Linked DNA regions of Homo sapiens: regions 1, 2 and 4 are each linked to region 3. The links come from fine-mapping of genetic effects on gene expression. A gene starts in region 3. Each other region holds a variant in brackets. All regions are shown on one strand. Distances are between the middles of the regions.

What was found. PIP is the estimated chance that this variant, and not a neighbour inherited with it, causes the effect.
Region 1: its variant is the best candidate, but not a certain one, in a credible set for the expression of PPCDC in whole blood (INTERVAL, PIP 0.57).
Region 2: its variant is the best candidate, but not a certain one, in a credible set for the expression of PPCDC in substantia nigra (GTEx, PIP 0.80).
Region 4: its variant is the best candidate, but not a certain one, in a credible set for the expression of PPCDC in cerebral cortex (GTEx, PIP 0.84).

The regions. Positions count from the first base shown.
Region 1 is chr15:75,052,497-75,056,659 of GRCh38, forward strand. No RefSeq gene overlaps it. Among named protein-coding and RNA genes, the nearest start is that of PPCDC, 31 kb to the left of the region's middle. RefSeq lists an enhancer at 1-3. The variant C/CA (reference allele first, on the strand shown) is at 1,774.
Region 2 is chr15:74,965,728-74,969,890 of GRCh38, forward strand. No RefSeq gene overlaps it. Among named protein-coding and RNA genes, the nearest start is that of RPP25, 11 kb to the left of the region's middle. The variant C/G (reference allele first, on the strand shown) is at 2,348.
Region 3 is chr15:75,021,959-75,026,121 of GRCh38, forward strand. PPCDC (phosphopantothenoylcysteine decarboxylase) reads left to right here and starts at 1,632. Exons shown (of 6, transcript NM_021823.5): 1 at 1,632-1,668.
Region 4 is chr15:75,094,564-75,098,726 of GRCh38, forward strand. No RefSeq gene overlaps it. Among named protein-coding and RNA genes, the nearest start is that of PPCDC, 73 kb to the left of the region's middle. The variant A/C (reference allele first, on the strand shown) is at 1,824.

The DNA of each region.
Region 1 (4,163 bases), 31 kb after region 3:
ATCTTGGCTCACTGCAAGCTCCGCCTCCCTGGTTCACGCCATTCTCCTGCCTCAGCCTCCTGAGTAGCTGGGACTACAGGCGCCCGCCACCACGCCCGGCTAATTTTTTTTTTGTATTTTTAATAGAGACGGAGTTTCACTGTGTTAGCCAGGATGGTCTCAATCTCCTGACCTCGTGATTCACCTGCCTCAGCCTCCCAAAGTGCTGGGATTACAGGCGTGAGCCATCGCACCTGGCCTGATTTTTTTTTTTTTTTTTTTTGTATTTTTAATAGAGACGGGGTTTCACCATGTTGGCCAGGCTGGTCTCGAACTCCTGACCTCATGATCTTCCTGCCTCGGCCTCCCAAAGTGCTGGAATTACAGGAGTGAGCCACCGTGCCCGGCCACCACTATTTATTACAACAGAATTGTAATTGTTAGTTTACTTTGTGTCCTCCTAACATTGGGTTCTCTTGGAGAGCAGGAGTTGTCCTGTTCCTTACAGAACCCAGTAAGTCACTCCAAGCTTGTACTGATCAAAAAAGTGGTGTGTGTGTTGGGGCTATTGGTTCCTGCTCCTTTCTGTGCAAGAGACAAAATTTAGCAACCACAAAAGCAAAGATTGATAAATTTGACTATAGAAAAATAGGTTCACTGAGCAACAACCCAAAGTCAAGGTCAAAGGACAACATGCTGGGGAAATTATCTGCAGCTCATAAACAAAGGGCTGATTCTCCTAATATATGAAGAACTCCTATGCATTGATGATAAAAAGACCAAGGGCCGGGCACAATAGCTCACACCTGTAATCCTAGCCCTTTGGGAGGCCGAGGTGGGTAGATTGCCTGAGCTCAAGGAGTTGAGACCCACCTGGCCTACCTGGTGAAACCCTGTCTCTACTAAAATACAAAAAATTAGCCAGACATGGTGGTGCATGCCTGTAGTCCCAGCTACTTGGGTGGCTCAGGCAGGAGAATTGCTTGAACCTGCGAGGCGGGGGTTGCAGTAAGCTGAGATCATGCCACTGAACTCCAGCCTGGGTGACTGAGCAAGATTCCATCTCAATAAAAAAAAAAAAAAAAAAAAAGAAAGAAAAAGAAAAAGGAAAAAAAGACCAAGAACATGTATTAAAAAGTGAGCAGAAGATACGAAGAATTCACATTAAAAACAAAAAAAAAAACAAAACCAAAAACCCAGTCACACAAAGGGCCCTTAAACAGCTACTCAGCCACATTCATGAGGAGAGTGGTGCAAATCAAGCTAGACCTAAAACTTTTGCCTGTTAGACTGGTGGGGGTGTGGGGAATTGGTGCCCTCATGCATTGCTGGTAGGAGCGTAAATTGATGGCAACTTCACTGGAGAACAATCTCGGAGTATCTATCAAAACTACGTATGCACCTTACCCTTTGACCCAGCAATTCTACTTCTAGGGATTTGTCCCACAGATACACTCACTTCTATGACATTATGTCTAAACAGATTTATTGCAGGCTTGTATATGGTACTGAAAGACCAGGCCAGGCACAGTGGCTCACGCCTGTAATCCCAGCATTTTGGGAGGCCAAGGCGGGCAGATTGGCTGAGCTCAGGAGTTTGAGACCAGCCTGGCAACATGGCGAAACCCCGTCTCTACTAAAAATACAAAGTCAGGTGTGATGGTGCATGCCTGTAATCCCAGCTACTCAGGAGGCTGAGGCAGGAGAATCGCTTCAACCTGGGAGGTGGAGGTTGCAGTGAGCCAAGATTGCACCACTGCACTTCAACCTAGGTGACAGAGAAAGACTCTGTCT[C/CA]AAAAAAAAAAAAAAAAAATTACATATGCACCTTACCCTTTGACCTAGCAATTCTGCTTCTAGGGATTTGTCCCACAGATACACTCAGTTGTATGACATTATGTCTGAACAGGAGATTTATTGCAGCCTCGCATATGGTGCTAAAAGACTGGAAACACCCTCACTATCTAACAGCCAGGAGATTGGATAAATAAATTAGTGTGTTCCTTCATACACTGGAACTCTACACAACCATAAAACAAAGTGTTGAGGAAGCTGATTTGGGAAGACTTCTGAGGTACATTGTTAAACAGAAAAAGCAAGGTGCAGAAGAATGTCACATGCATGCTTGTGCAGAAAAAATGGGGGTGGGGAAAGAAAAGGAGGATATATTCTTATTGGCTTGTGTGTGCATCAAATGCCTTTAAAAAGATAAACAGAGAAAAACATTGTCTATTGTTTTTCTCTTGGCAGGGGAACTAACTGAGTGGTTGAGAAACAAAGATAGGAGGCAGGCCAGGACTCCGTCTCAAAAAAAAAAAAAAAAAAGATAGGAGGTGACTTCATTTTTAATTGTTGGGCCAGATGAATATACTATCTACCACAAAATCAATAAATACATTTTAAAAAGAGTTCCTTGTGGTCAGGCACAGTGGCTCACACCTGTAATCCCAACACTTTGGGAGGCCAAGGCAGAGGGATTAGTTTAAGACCAGAAGTTTGAGACAGGCCTAGGCAACACAGTGAGACTCCATCTCTACCAAAAGAAACACAACTAACTGGACATGGTGGCACACGCCTGTATTCCCAGCTACTTAGGAGGCTGAGGTGGGAGGATTGCTTGAGCCCAGGAGTCCAAGGCTGCAGTGAGCTATGGTCATGCCAGTGCACTCCGGCCTGGGTGAGGAGTGAGACTCTGTCTCTAAAAAATTTAATAATAATAAATAAAAATATAAAAAGATTTTTCTGCTCTTTTTGTTTGTTTTTTAAGACAGGGCCTCACTCTGTCATCCAGGCTGGAGTGTAGTGGCACAATCACAGCTCACTGCAGACTTGACTTTCTGGGGCTCAAGTGATCCTCCCATCTTAGACTCCCGAGTAACTGGGACTACAGGCACCCGCCACCATGGCCCGGCTAATTTTTGTATTTTTGGTAGATACGGGGTTTCACCATGTTGGCCAGGCTAGTCTTGAACTCCTGGCCTTAAGTGATCCACCTGCCTCAGCCTCCCAAAGTGCTGGGATTACAGGTGTGAGCCTGGCCTCTTTCTGTTCTTTATCTGGAAGTTCTTAAAAATGATGGCAGGGAGTTACTGCAAACAAACACACAGACTTGGCAGAGGCATCTGGAAATTTTCTTTTTGTTTTTGAGACTGGGTTTCACTCCGTTACCTGGGCTGACTGCAGTGCAGCAGCACAATCACAGCTCACTGTAGCCTTGAACTCCAGGGCTCAGTTGATCCTCCCACCTTAGCCTCCCCAGTAGCTGAGACTACAGGCACATGACACCATGCCTGGCTAATTTTTTATTTTTTGCAGAGATGGGGTTTTACCATGTTGCCCAGGTTGGTCATGAACTCCTGGACTCAAGTGATGCTCCTGCCTTGGCCTCCCAAAGTGCTGTAATTACAGGCATGAGCCACGGTGCCTGGCCTGAAGATATTCATCAAGGCCTTTGGAGTAGAAATGGGTCTGCTTTTCTTGTCACAAGCTAACAGAGGAAAATGAATTTTGAGTATCCTTGTGTGCTTTTAATAAACCTTTGAGATCCCTGATCTCAAGGAACTTATGTTCTTATGGGAGAAAGATTCACAGTGATCAAATAACAGCAAACAATGAAAGTGAGACTGTGTGGCATGGACTCTACTTCAGAATTGAGCAGTCAGGATGGGTCCCCTGGACGGAACAGAACTTGGGCTGGGGCTTACAGGAGGACCAAGGATACAAAGGGTGAAGACATGCTGCCATGTGCTTGATGTAGGACACCCAGGGAGGAACTCCGGCTCCACGTGCTGGGGAGGTTGGGAGCTGTTCAGTAGGGGAGGCACATGGTGAGTGTGGCGTGCGGTCAAGATCAGCGGGGCGGTATGTGCAGGACAGATTGGGTCTGGATTGAGAAGCTGGAGTCTAGGAGGAAGCCAGGATGCTGAGAAGGGGAATCTAGGTTGTGCTGAAGGCCTTGACCACACCCCTGATTCTGGAAAAGGGGTGACAAAAGTAACAATGTGAAGAAAAATCAACACCATTAAAAACTGTAAAAACCACGGTCTTTTCCAAAGGTGGTGTGTACTAAAAACAAAACAAAACACAATATCCAACAAACAAACAAACAAAAAACAACCCACTGTCCTTGTGGCCAGTGGAGGGAGGGAGACTAAATGACACTGTATGTGTGTGTTGGTGCAAGATTT
Region 2 (4,163 bases), 56 kb before region 3:
GTTCACTGGGGTTGTGGGCACACCTTTAAGATTCTGCCCTGCGCCGGGCGCGGTGGCTCACGCCTGTAATCCCAGCACTTTGGGAGGCCGAGGCGGGTGGATCACGAGGTCAGGAGATCAAGACCATCCTGGCTAACATGGTGAAACCCCGTCTCTACTAAAAGCACAAAAAATTAGCCGGGCCTGGTGGCGGGCGCCTGTAGTCCCAGTTGCTCAGGAGGCTGAGGCAGAAGAATGGCGTGAACCCGGGAGGCGGAGCTTGCAGTGAGCCGAGATCACGCCACTGTACTCCAGCCTGGGCGACAGAGCCAGATTCCGTCTCAAAAAAAAAAAAAAAAGAAAAGAAAAAGATTCTGCCCTGAAGTCCAAGTGAGCTACACAGGTCCAGTGTTTTCAAAAAAGAAGTCCCCAAACTCATGTTTTTATGTGACAGTTTCAGGTTTTTATTTTTTATTTTTTTATGTTTAATTGTTTTTAGACAGAGTCTCACTCTGTTGCCCAGGCTGGAGGGCAGTGGCACGACCTTGGCTCACTGCAACCTCTCCGCCTCCTGGGTTCAGGCGATTCTCCTGCCTCAGCCTCCCGAGTAGCTGGGACTACAGGCTTATGCCACCACGCCCTGCTGATTTTTGTGTTTTTAGTAAAGATGCGGTTTCACCAGGATGGTCTCCATCTCTTGACCTTGTGATCCGCCCACCTCGGCCTCCCAAAGTGCTGGGATTACAGGAGTGAGCCACTGCGCCCAGCCTATTTTTTATTTTTAAATTTCTTTTAGAGACAAGGTCTCATTTTGTTGACCAGAGCTGGAGTGCACTGGTGCAGTCATAGCTCACTGCAGACCTGAACCCCTGGGCTCAAGGGATTCGCAGGCACATGCCATGTGGGCCAGTTTCAGGTTTTTAAATGTTGTCGACTGTTTCAGTTATCTATTGCTGAGTAACAAATCACCTTAAAATCACAAATCACCAGGCCAGGCGCGGTGGCTCACGCCTGCAATCCCAGCACTTTGGGAGGCTGAGGCGGGCGGATCACGAGGTCAGGAGATTGAGACCATCCTGGCTAACACGGTGAAACCCCGTCTCTACTAAAAATACAAAAAATTAGCCGGGCGTGGTGGTGGCCGGTGCCTGTAGTCCCAGCTACTCAGGAGGCTGAGGCAGGAGAATGGTGTGAACCCAGGAGGCGGAGCTTGCAGTGAGTGGAGATTGCGCCATTGCCCTCCAGCCTGGGCAACACAGCGAGACTCCCATCACACACACACACACACAAAAATCACACATCCCCTTAATTAGTGGCTAAAATAGCAATGATGTATTATTTATGTTTTTTTACTATTATATATTTTTTAAAAATAGAGATGGGCTGGGTGCAGTGGCTCACGCCTATAATCCCAGCACTTTGGGAGGCCGAGGAGGGTAGATCTCCTAAGGTCAGGAGTTCTAGACCAGCCTGGTCAACATAGTGGACCCTGTCTCTACTAAAAACACAAAATTAGCCAGGCATGGTGGTGGGCACCTGTAATCCCAGCTACTCGGGAGGCTGAGGCAGGAGAATTGCTTGAACCCAGGAGGCGGAAGTTCCAGTGAGCTGAGATCAGTGTAGCCTGGGCAGCAGAGCAAGACTCCATCTCACACAAAAAAAAGAGATGGGGTCTCACTATGTTGCCCAGGCTGGTCTTGAACTCCTGGGCTCAAGTGATCTGCTCACCTATGCCTCCCAAAGGGCTGAGATTATAGGCATGACGCACCATGTCCAGCCAATGATGTATTATTTCTAATGACTTCGTTTTGGCTGGGTTCAGCTGGGCAGTTAGTTCTTCTGCTCCACTTAATACTGGCTGTGGTCACTCACATGGCTTCATTCAGCTGGGAGCTTGACAGAGGTCAGAACACTCAAGATGGCTTCATTCATAAGTCTAGTGCCTCTGCTGGGGTGGCTGGAAGGCTGGGGGTGTTGGCTGGGCCTCTCTTTTCATGGACTCTAGCCTAAGCTTCTTTCTTGAGTGGCTTGATCCCAAAACAGTGAAAATGGGAGCTGTCAGGCTTTGTAAGGCCTAGACCTAGATGTCACACATTATCATGTCCTCTACATTCCATTGGTCAAACCAAGATACATGTCTAGACCAGATTCAAGGGATAAGGAAATAAACTGTACCTCTTGGTGAAAGGCCTGACATGTATATACAGGAATGGGAGGAACTGTTGACAGCCATCTCTGCAGACAATCTACCACATGAACTAACTCATGTGTTTTTGTTTTTTGTTTTTGAGATGGAGTCTCGCCCTGTCGCCTAGGTTGGAGTGCAATGGCACGATCTCGGCTCACTGCAACCTCCGCCTCCCAGGTT[C/G]AAGCGATTCTTCTTCCTCAGCCTCCCAAGGAGCTGAGATTGCAGGTGCCCGCCACCACGCCTGGCTAATTTTTTTTTTTTTTTTTTTTTTTTTTTTTTTTGAGACGGAGTCTCGCTCTGTCGCCCAGGCTGGAGTGCAGTGGTGGAGTCTTGGCTCACTGCAAGCTCCGCCTCCTGGGTTCACGCCATTCTCCTGCCTCAGCCTCCAGAGTAGCTGGAACTACAGGTGCCTGCCACCACGCCTGGCTAATTTTTTTTTGTATTTTTAGTAGAGATGGGGTTTCATCATGTTGGCCAGGCTGGTCTCAAACGCCTGACCTTGTGATCTGCTGGCCTCAGCCTCCCAAAGTGCTGGGATTACAGGCGTGAGACACTGCGCCTGGCCTAGCTCATGCTTTTAAATAACGTATCTGTAGCTCAGTTTAGCCCAAGGTTGCAACTTCCTTTTTTTTTTTTTTTGAGACAGAGTATCTCTCTGTCGCCAGCCTGGAGTGCAGTGACCTGATCTCAGCTCACTGCAACTTCCATCTCCTGGGTTCAAGCAATTCCCTGCCTCAGCCTCCCAAGTAGCTAGGATTACAGGCGCCCACCACCATGCCTGGCTAATTTTTGTATATATATATTTTTTAGTAGAGACGGGGTTTCACCATCTTGGCCAGGCTAGTCTTGAACTCCTGACCTTGTGATCCACCTGCCTCAGCCTCCCAAAGTGCTGGGATTACAGGCGTGAGCCACCACACCCAGCCTCCTTTTATTTTTTTAATTTAAATTTTATTTTTTTGAGACAGAATCTTGCTGTGACGCCCAGGCTGGAGTGTAGTGGAGCAATCAGGGCTCACTGCAAACTCTGCCTCCTGAGTTCAAGCAATTCTCCTGTCTCAGCCTCCCGAGTAACTGGGATTGCAAGTGCCCACCACCACACCAGCTAATTTTTTGTATTTTTTGTATTTTTTTTTTTTTTAGTAGAGTAGGGGTTTTACCATGTTGGCCAGGCTGGTCTCGAACTCCTGACCTCAGGAGATTTGCCCGCCTCGGCCTCCCAAAGTGCTGGGATTACAGGTGTGAGCCACCGTGCCCGGCCATGCCCAACTAATTTTTGTGTTTTGTTTGTAGAGACGGGGTTTTGCCATGTTGACCAGTCTGGTCACAAACTCCTGGCCTCAAGTGATCCACCCGCCTCAGCCTCCCAAAGTGTTGGGATTACAGGCATGAGTAACCATGCCCAGCACAACTTTTTTTTTTTTTTTTTAAGACAAGGTCTCACTGCTGTCACCCAGGCAGGTGTGCAGTGGCACTATCACAGCTCATTGCAGACTCAACCTCTCAGGCTCAGGTGATCCTCCCACCTCATTTTTAGATTTTTTTTTTTTTTTTTTGTAGGGATGGGGTCTTACTATGTTGCCCAGGCTGGTCTGGAACTCCTGGGCTCAAGCAATACTCCTGCCTCGGTCTCTTAAAGTGTTGGGATTACAGGCGTGAGCCACTGCTCTGGGCCAAGGTTGCAACTTCTACTTGAAACTTTCAGGGAATTCACCTGGAAATGCAGGGGCTTTTTTTTTTTTTTTTTTTTTTTTTTTTTTTTTGAGACAGAGTCTCACTTTGCTGCCCAGGCTGGAGTGCGGTGGTGCGATCTTGGCTCACTGAAACCTCTGCCTCCCAGGTTCAAGCGATTCTCCTGCCTCAGCCTCCCAAGTAGCTGGGACTATAGGTGTGCACCACCATGCCTGGCTAATTTTGTATTTTTAGTAGAGACGAGGTTTCACCATGTTGGCCAGGCTGGTCTCGACCTCTTGACCTCAGGTGATCCTACTTTGGG
Region 3 (4,163 bases):
GAGATCGCACCACTGCACTCCAGCCTGGGCGACACAGCAAGACTCCATCTCAAAAAAAAAAGACACGGCTGGATCCCTGCGTAAGGGATGGTTTGGCCCAGATGGTCCACTGCGGCTAAGGGCGGGGGTAGAGCAGAGGCCCCACCTCAGCTCAGGGCAGGGGACCCGCAGCTGGTTCAGCCACCTCAATGAATACAGAGGTTCCTGGGGCCTGTGAAGGCTAGAAAATGAAGGGGGCAGGGAAGCATGCCAGTGTGTGTTCTTCTGCCGCCTTCCCTTTGCCCATTTGATGCCTTCCACCTGGATCGCTATTGGGATCCTCTATCTAACCTCCTGGCTGTCCTTCAAGATTCATTTCAAGTCACTCCTTCAAGAAGGCTTTCCTGCCTAGAGGTGTTGCTTCCTCATGGAGGATCTTACCCTGTCATTTTCTGTGTCCCTGTTTGTCTCAAGAACAGGGACGCATCTGATTTATCTCTGTATCCTGTGCACCTAAAATAGAAGAGGCTTGGTAAATATTAAGTGCCACGAGCCCTCTTTTACTAAGGACCTGCCAACATGGGCCCCATTCACACTAATACCATGAAGATAGCCCTTTTCTATACTTCGTCATAAAAAAGTAATACACACACCCGGGCAGCAACTTCCACACAAACAACACATGTGCAAGGAGATCACCATTATTTCCAGCAAAATGCTCCCCAGGGCCGAGCGTGGTGGCTCACTCCTGTAGTCCCAGCACTTTGGGAGGCCAAGGTGGGCGGATTGTTTGAGCCTAGGAGTTTGAGACCAGCCTGGGCAATAGAGTGAGAACCCGTCTCTACAAAAAATACAAACATTAGTCTGGCATGATGGTGCACTCCTGTAGTCCTGGCTACTCCATAGGCTGAGATAGGAGGATGGCTTAAGCCCAAAAGGTGGAGGTTGCAGTGAGTGGAGATAGCACCACTGCGCACTCCAGTCTGGGTGACAGAGCCAGACCCTGTCTCAAAAAAAAAAAAAAAAACAAAAAAAAAAACAGCTCCCCAACAAGATAGCAGGCTACAACATGCATGTGATGAAGCTGATTTGAAGCGCTCAGTGAGAGGTATCTGCATCAAGTTGCAGGAGGAGAAGAGAGAAAGGAGAGATAATCATGTTCCTGAGGTCTCAGCCCTGGATCAGGAAATCATTGAAGTATTAACATATCCTGACATTAAGGAAATGCTGATGTTTTTGGACTTTGGCAGTCTGTCCAACCTGCAGGTCACTCAGCCAACAGTGGGGATGAATTTCAAAACGCCACGTGGAAGCTGTTTGAATCTTTTTGAGATACTGTAATATTTTCAATAAACCTGGGACAACAGCAAAAAAAAAAAAAAAAAAAAAAAGGCCCCAAGCAACAAGCAGTGTGTGTGGGGCTGATAGGAGTGAGGAAAGGAGGTCGGACAGTTATGCCAGCCCCTATCGAGAGTCCCAGCAATACAAAGAACAGGGCCAGGGTTTGCTCCAGGATTTCCCCAGTGGACTACAACTCCCGGAAGGCAGAGAAGTGGACTACAGCTCCCAGAAGGCTGCGCGACATACAGCCAGCCCGGTGCTCTCGTGAGGCGTGCCAGTCAGATTCCGCGGGAGAGCGGCAGAGATACCGCGATATTTGGGAGCGGCCCCGAGACGCGCCTGGCGCGGGTGAGCAGTGGAAGGGGGCTGGGAAGCTGGGTTCTCGCGGCGGCGCGGGAGGGGAGGTTCGGGGAGCTGTGTCCGCGAGCGTGGGTCCACGGCTGTCTGTGTGTGTCCTTATTTTCCCCTGTGTGCCCATGAAGCTCTGTTTGCGACTGTGCGTGGGTAGGCGGCCGTCCATCTGTGCGACCTCACTTTCCCGGCTGTACGGGTGGGGCCGCCTGGAGCAGGAGGGACCCCCGAGCCCTGAGTGGAGGGTTTGCATCTGTACCCGTCCAGCCCGACTTTGTGCTGCTCTGCGATTATTTGTCCAGTGTCGTTTAATCTAGTTTAAATGATGGCCGTGTCAGCTCCTCACACTGAACGCTTACCCGGGCTGCCCAAAGTACAAAGTGTATTTAAAAAGTTGGTAAAATTAAAAAAGGAAAGCCATGGGATGTTGGAAGTAGCCCTAGGCCTGCCAAAAAGTGCTGAGTGCTATTTAAAAATTAGGCCAAATCTTGTCAGAAAAGAACTTCCTGCTGTCCTTGAAGTATTTGGAAGCAGGTGCTAGATGGTGAGCAGGAGAGGTTGCCAAGTTGGGGAAGTGGTGGTTGTCCTGGAGCAGGGGTTTCCACATCTCTCACAGTGGCTGGGAAGTAGCAATTCGCAGTCACTGCCTTTCTAGTAGCCCACGTGTGTGAGTGTGTGTGTTAGATACATTTATCCCTCAGTATCCGCAGGGGATTGCTGTATACTTTTTTTTTTTGAGACAAGGTCTCATTCTGTGACCCAGGCTGGAGTGCAGTGGCAGGAACATGGCTCACTGCAGCCTCGACCTCCTGGGCTCAAGGGATCCTCCTGCCTCAGCCTCCTGTGTAGCTGGAACCACAGGCATAAACAACCATACCCGGCTAATTTTTATTTTATTTCATTTTTGTAGAGACAGGGTCTCACCATGTTGCCCAGGCTGGTCTCAAACTCCTGGCTCAAGCTATCCTCCTTCCTTGGCCTCTCAAAATGCTGGGATTACAGGTGTGAGCCACCACATCACCCTCCTGTATACTCTTTTTTCTTTTCTTTTTTTTTTTTTGAGTCAGGGTCTCACTCTTGTCTCCCAGGCTGGAGTGTAGTGGTGCAATCATAGCTCACTGCATCTTCGAACTCCCTGGGCTCAGATAATCCTCCCACCTCAGCCTCCCAGGTAGCTGGGACTGCAGGCACGTGCCACCACGCCCTCCATATAATTTAAATAATCTCTAGATTACTTATAAAACCTGATACAGTGTAAATGCTATGTAAATAGCTACACACTTTTTTTTTTTTGTGGTACTATTATTATATTTTGAAATGGTCTCTCTCTGTCACCCAGGCTGGAGTGCAGTGGCACAAACATGGCTCACTGCAGCCTTCTAGGCTCAAGCGATCCTCCTGCCTCAGCCTCCCAAGTAGTTGAGACCACAGGCATGTGCCACCACACCTCACTAACTTTTAAATTTTTTGTATGGGGTCTTGCTATGTTACCCAGGCTGGTCTCGAGTACCTGGGTTTGCTCAATCCTCCCACCTTGCCCTCTTAAATTGCTGGGATTACAGGTGTAAGCTGGAGCAGAAGCCTGGGCAGCCGGTAGTGAGGGGCTTTGATGTTAGGCTAAAGGATTCAGGCTCATAATGGATCTTGGATCCCTGCCTACCCACCACCCACTTCCCTTGTTTGGTTCTGCTTTGTCTTAGGCTCAGTTCTCATCCTTCCTGTATTGAGCTTGAACGTATACCCTGTCTGGCCTTGCTTTCCTTGCTCTGTCTTTAGTCTGGTTCTGTGCCAGCTCCACCTTTGCCCATATAGGGACTGGCAGGTATCCCTGAAACCTAAAACTCTGCCCTGAATTAAACTCATCAGAGGAGACTTAAACATCACAAGCTGAGGCTCTTTGCTCTGTCTGTCCCTGTCTTTCTGGAGGATAGAGAAGCTGCCATTTTTCTGGCTGTGGCTTACCTGCTTGGCTAGTGCCCTGGGATCTTGAGGCTCAGTAATCAAAGCGTGTAGCCCTATAACCTGCCCACTTGCCAACTCTTTTTGCTGCTCAGGAGTTCCTGTGAATTCAGCAGAGCCCGGGGAAGTCAGGTACTACAGCTACCTGTGCAAATAGGTGACTCCAACAGGTTCTGGTTACAGTAATAGACTTACTGGTTTGGAATTTGATCCTCTTTGCAAGCAAATGAAGGAATCCTGCCAGCCATCACCCTTCCTGGAATTCTCAGGTTGAACTGATTGGACCTCGCCTCCAAATGTTGGTTAAATGATCCACTTTCTATTCTTCAAGTATATTAAGCACACACATACACACACACACCCTCTTTTTTAGGAAGGTAGGTAGGTTTGATCCTTAGCACAGCTTTGCTAAGCAGGCTAAGTACTGTATTTCGGACTATAGTGCCTGCTGTGGGGAAGCAGTTGAAGTCACTAATACAGATTCCTGCCCCAAGTTTAACTGACTGCTTTCTGTAACCTGTTTCCTAGGAATG
Region 4 (4,163 bases), 73 kb after region 3:
CTGACCTCATGATCTGCCCGCCTTGGACTCCCAAAGTGCTGGGATTACAGGTGTGAGCCACCACACCCAGCCTGTAAAATCTTTATGTAGAAAATTATAGCACCTTACTGAAAGGCAATAAGAAAACCAATTGGTGAGCAACAACATGTTTGTGGAAAGACTCAATGCTGTAAAACTGTTATTTCTCCCCAGATTGATTTAATACTGTTTCCATCAAATCATAACAAAACTTTGCACACATTTCACCAAAAAAAAAAAAAAAAAAAAAAATTAGTGCCTAGATCCTATAAATCAATTAGGAGGACAAAAAATTCAATAGAAAAATGTTTAAAAATATGAACAGGTGCTGGGTGTGGCGGCTCATGCCTGTTAATTCCAGCACTTTGGGAGGCTGAGGTGGGCAGATCACTTGAGGTCAAGAGTTCAAGACCAGCCTGGCCAACATGGTGAAACCCCATCTCTACTAAAAATACAAAAGTTAGCCGGGCGTGGTGGCAGTCCTCTGTAATCATAGCTACTCAGGAGGCTGAGGTAGGAGAATCACTTGAACCCAGGAGGTGGAGGTTGCAATGAGCTGAGATCACACCACTGCACTCCAGCCTGGGCGACGGAGTGAGACACTGTCTCAAAAAACCAAACCAAACCAAAACAAAACAAACCATAAACAGGTATTTCACAGAAAACACAAATGGCCCATTAAATATATGAAAATATACTCACCTTCATTAGTAAAAAGGGGAAATGTAAATAAAACCACAAATTTTCATTTCATGCCCACTAGTTTGGAAAAAAATTAGAAGACTGACAAAATGCTGGTGAAATGTAACTATTAAACTGCAGTGGGACTAGAGGTGAGTACACTCACTTTGAAGAAAAGTTTTACATTATTTGGTAAAAGTGAACATTCACACACCCTGAGACCCAGCAGTTCTACTCCTGGAGATATGGATGGAATAGTCACAGAGCACTGTTTATTAGATCAAAAACAAAATAGCCCAAGTACCCATTACAGTAGAGTGAATAAATGAATTGTGGTTCAGTCACACAATAGAATACTATATTATAGTGGAACAGAAAACTATAGCTCCATACATTAACATGGATGTAGCTGATGATATTTTCCAGACGGCCACCACCATACAGCCCGTCTCATGTGCTCTTCTCACCTTTTGAGATGCCAGTGACATATTACATCTTTCTTGTAGTCCCACAGGTCCCTGAAACTGTTTTTTTTCCCCTCCTGCAGTCTATTTTCTCTCTGGTTCAGTTTCAGTCTATTTTCCCTGTGGTTCCAATCAGGTCATTTCTATTCTGTGTTTCAGTTCACGGATTCTTTCTTCTGTCCTCCCGTTCTTCTGTTGAGCACATCCACTGAGCTTTAAAATTTTAGTCATTGTCTTTTTCAGTTTGAGCATTTCCATTTGGTGCTGCATATGTTAACTAGCTTGATTTAGCCATTTCACAATGTCTACATATATCAAAACATCATTTGTATACCATAAGTATATATAATTTTTTTTTGGTCAACAAAAATAATAAAATTTCTATTTGGTTCTCTCTCTCTCTCTCTTCCTCCCTCTGTCCCTCTGTGCCAATGCCTGTAAGAATACTTTTTTATTGTTTTTGTTGAGACGGAGTCTCACTCTATCGCCCAGGCTGGAGTGCAGTGGCACGATCTAGGCTCACTGCAAGCTCTGCCTCCCGGCTTCATGCCATTCTCCTGCCTCAGCCTCCCAAGTAGCTGGGACTACAGGTGTCCGCCACCACGCCCGGCTAATTTTTTGTATTTTTAGTAGAGACGGGGTTTCACTGTGTTAGCCAGG[A/C]TGTTCTCGATCTCCCGACCTCGTGATTCGCCCGCCTCGGCCTCCCAAAGTGCTGGGATTACAGGCGTGAGCCACCGCGCCCGGCCAATTCCAGCACTTTGGGAGGCCGAGGCAGGTGGCTCACGAGGTCAGGAGATGGGGACCATCCTGGCTAACACAGTGAAACCCCGTCTCTACTAAAAATACAAAAAATTAGCCGGGCGTGGTGGCGGGCGCCTGTGGTCCCAGCTACTCGGGAGGCTGAGGCAGGAGAATGGGGTGAACCCGGGAGGCGGAGCTGGCAGTGAGCCGAGATGGCGCCACTGCACTCCAGCCTGGGCGACAGAGCAAGACTCCGTCTCAAAAAAAAAAAAAAAAAATTGCTGTGATTACAGGCATGAGCCACCGCTCCCGTCCTTGACTGGTGATTTTCTACTGAAACCCAGACATGTTAGGTATTACGAGACTCTGGGTCTTACTGAAACCTTGCTTCCCACGCTGCTACTCCAGCACAGGAGGGGAGGTGCTGCCGCGTTGCTGTGAGGTGGAGGCGGAAGTCCAGGTTCCCCACTCAGCACCCATGGACTCTAGAGAAGGGGGCACTGTGCCTTACTTTGGAGGGTGTGGGAGTCCTAGATTCTACTAGACCAGCACTGGCTGTGCGGGGTGGGGGTGTCACCTTACTGCTCTTTCATGGCCTCCACTTTCACCATATTCTCAGGATGGCAGTGACCTTGGAGTGGAGAGAGGGGATGTGATTGGGCAGGAGACGCAGGAGGCTTCAAAAGAACTGTGAATGTTTTATTTTGTAGTTGAGCAGTAGGTATACAGATGTTTCTTTCTTTCTTTCTTTCTTTCTTTCTTTCTTTCTTTCTTTCTTTCTTTCTTTGAGACAGAGCCTCGCTTTGTTGCCCAAGCTGGAGTGCAGTGGCACAATCTCGGCTCACTGCAACCTCTGCCTCCCAGGTTGAAGCGATCCTCCTCCCTGAGCTTCCTAAGTAGCTGGGATTACAGGCGTGCACCACCACGCCCAGCTAATTTTTTTGTATATTTAGTAGAGACGGGATTGCACCATGTTGGCCAGGCTTGTCTCAAATTTCTGACCTCAGGTGATTCACCTGCCTCTGCCTCCCAAAGTGCTGGGATTACAGGCATGAGCCACTGTGCCCAGCCGGTATACAGGTATTAATTTTATTATTATTATATATTACGGAATGTTTTAAAAACAGAAAAACCTAACCACAACAGAGTAGAAATATGCTGTGTTTAGAATATTTGTAACACAGTTAGCTGAGCTCCTCAGACATAGCAATATCCATCGTCTGTAGTATTAAGCACTATCCATGTGCCAGGTGCTGTGCCAAGCACTTCACACACATCATCTTATTTATCCCTCACCACACTCCTAGGGGACAGATACTAACCCACTTTACATACAAGGAAGCTCAGGCTCAAAGAGGTTAAGTCGCTTGCCCAGAATCACAGAGTAATATGTGGCTGAGGTGGGACGGGAGCCCAGGCCTGTCTGCAGAGACTGTATTCTTCAACCCACAGCATCCGAACAAGGATGAAACCAATTAATATCATTCATTGTAATCATGGCATGCCATGTCCTACCCACAGCTGATAAAATCCGACAGAAAGCATTAGACTCCCACAGGATGGGTAATATGTCTTGGGAGGACCTTGTGGGCAAAGTGAATACAAGTGGCAGCTGCACCCAAACAAGCCCAGGGTCAGGACCCACCCAGGTGAGCAGAGCTTGGAATTAGCCAGTGAGGCAGGAGCTGTGGCTGAGGCCTGTCCAGCCGTGTGGCAGGGCTGTGAAGGCAGGCAGAATAGCAAGGGAGGGACGCCAGAGATGGGGAACCATGAAAGATGTCTCGCCTCCTGTTTCAGAGGGAGGGATCCAACTCGCGGGGCAAGAGCGGCTGGAACTGGAGGGAGAGAATAGTGTCTGCAAGAGCAGAATACCAGACATCAGAGTTAGCAATCCAGGCAGGAGCCAGAACCCAGGGCCACAGAGAGCATGGTCTGCCCTGTCCCACCGCTTTCTCTGTGACACAGGGGAAAGAGGTTACAGAAATTGAGTGATAATGGCTAAGGTGAATCAGCCACGAACTATAGCCCTCTCAGGAGCTGCAGGCCCTGCCCTACCCAGCCTGCCCAACTGGTGGGTGGCAAAGACCTGTCCACCCACTAGGACAGGGCAAGAGGCAGAGCTACCAGTTAGGAGCTCACGTGGTCACTGTCCATGGGAATGGTGGTTCAGGCCAACAAAATCAGATTGTCCAGCGACAATTGTCAATTCCCACTGTAAGGCCACAGCCCTGGGATGGGAATCCTGGTTGGACTACAGCT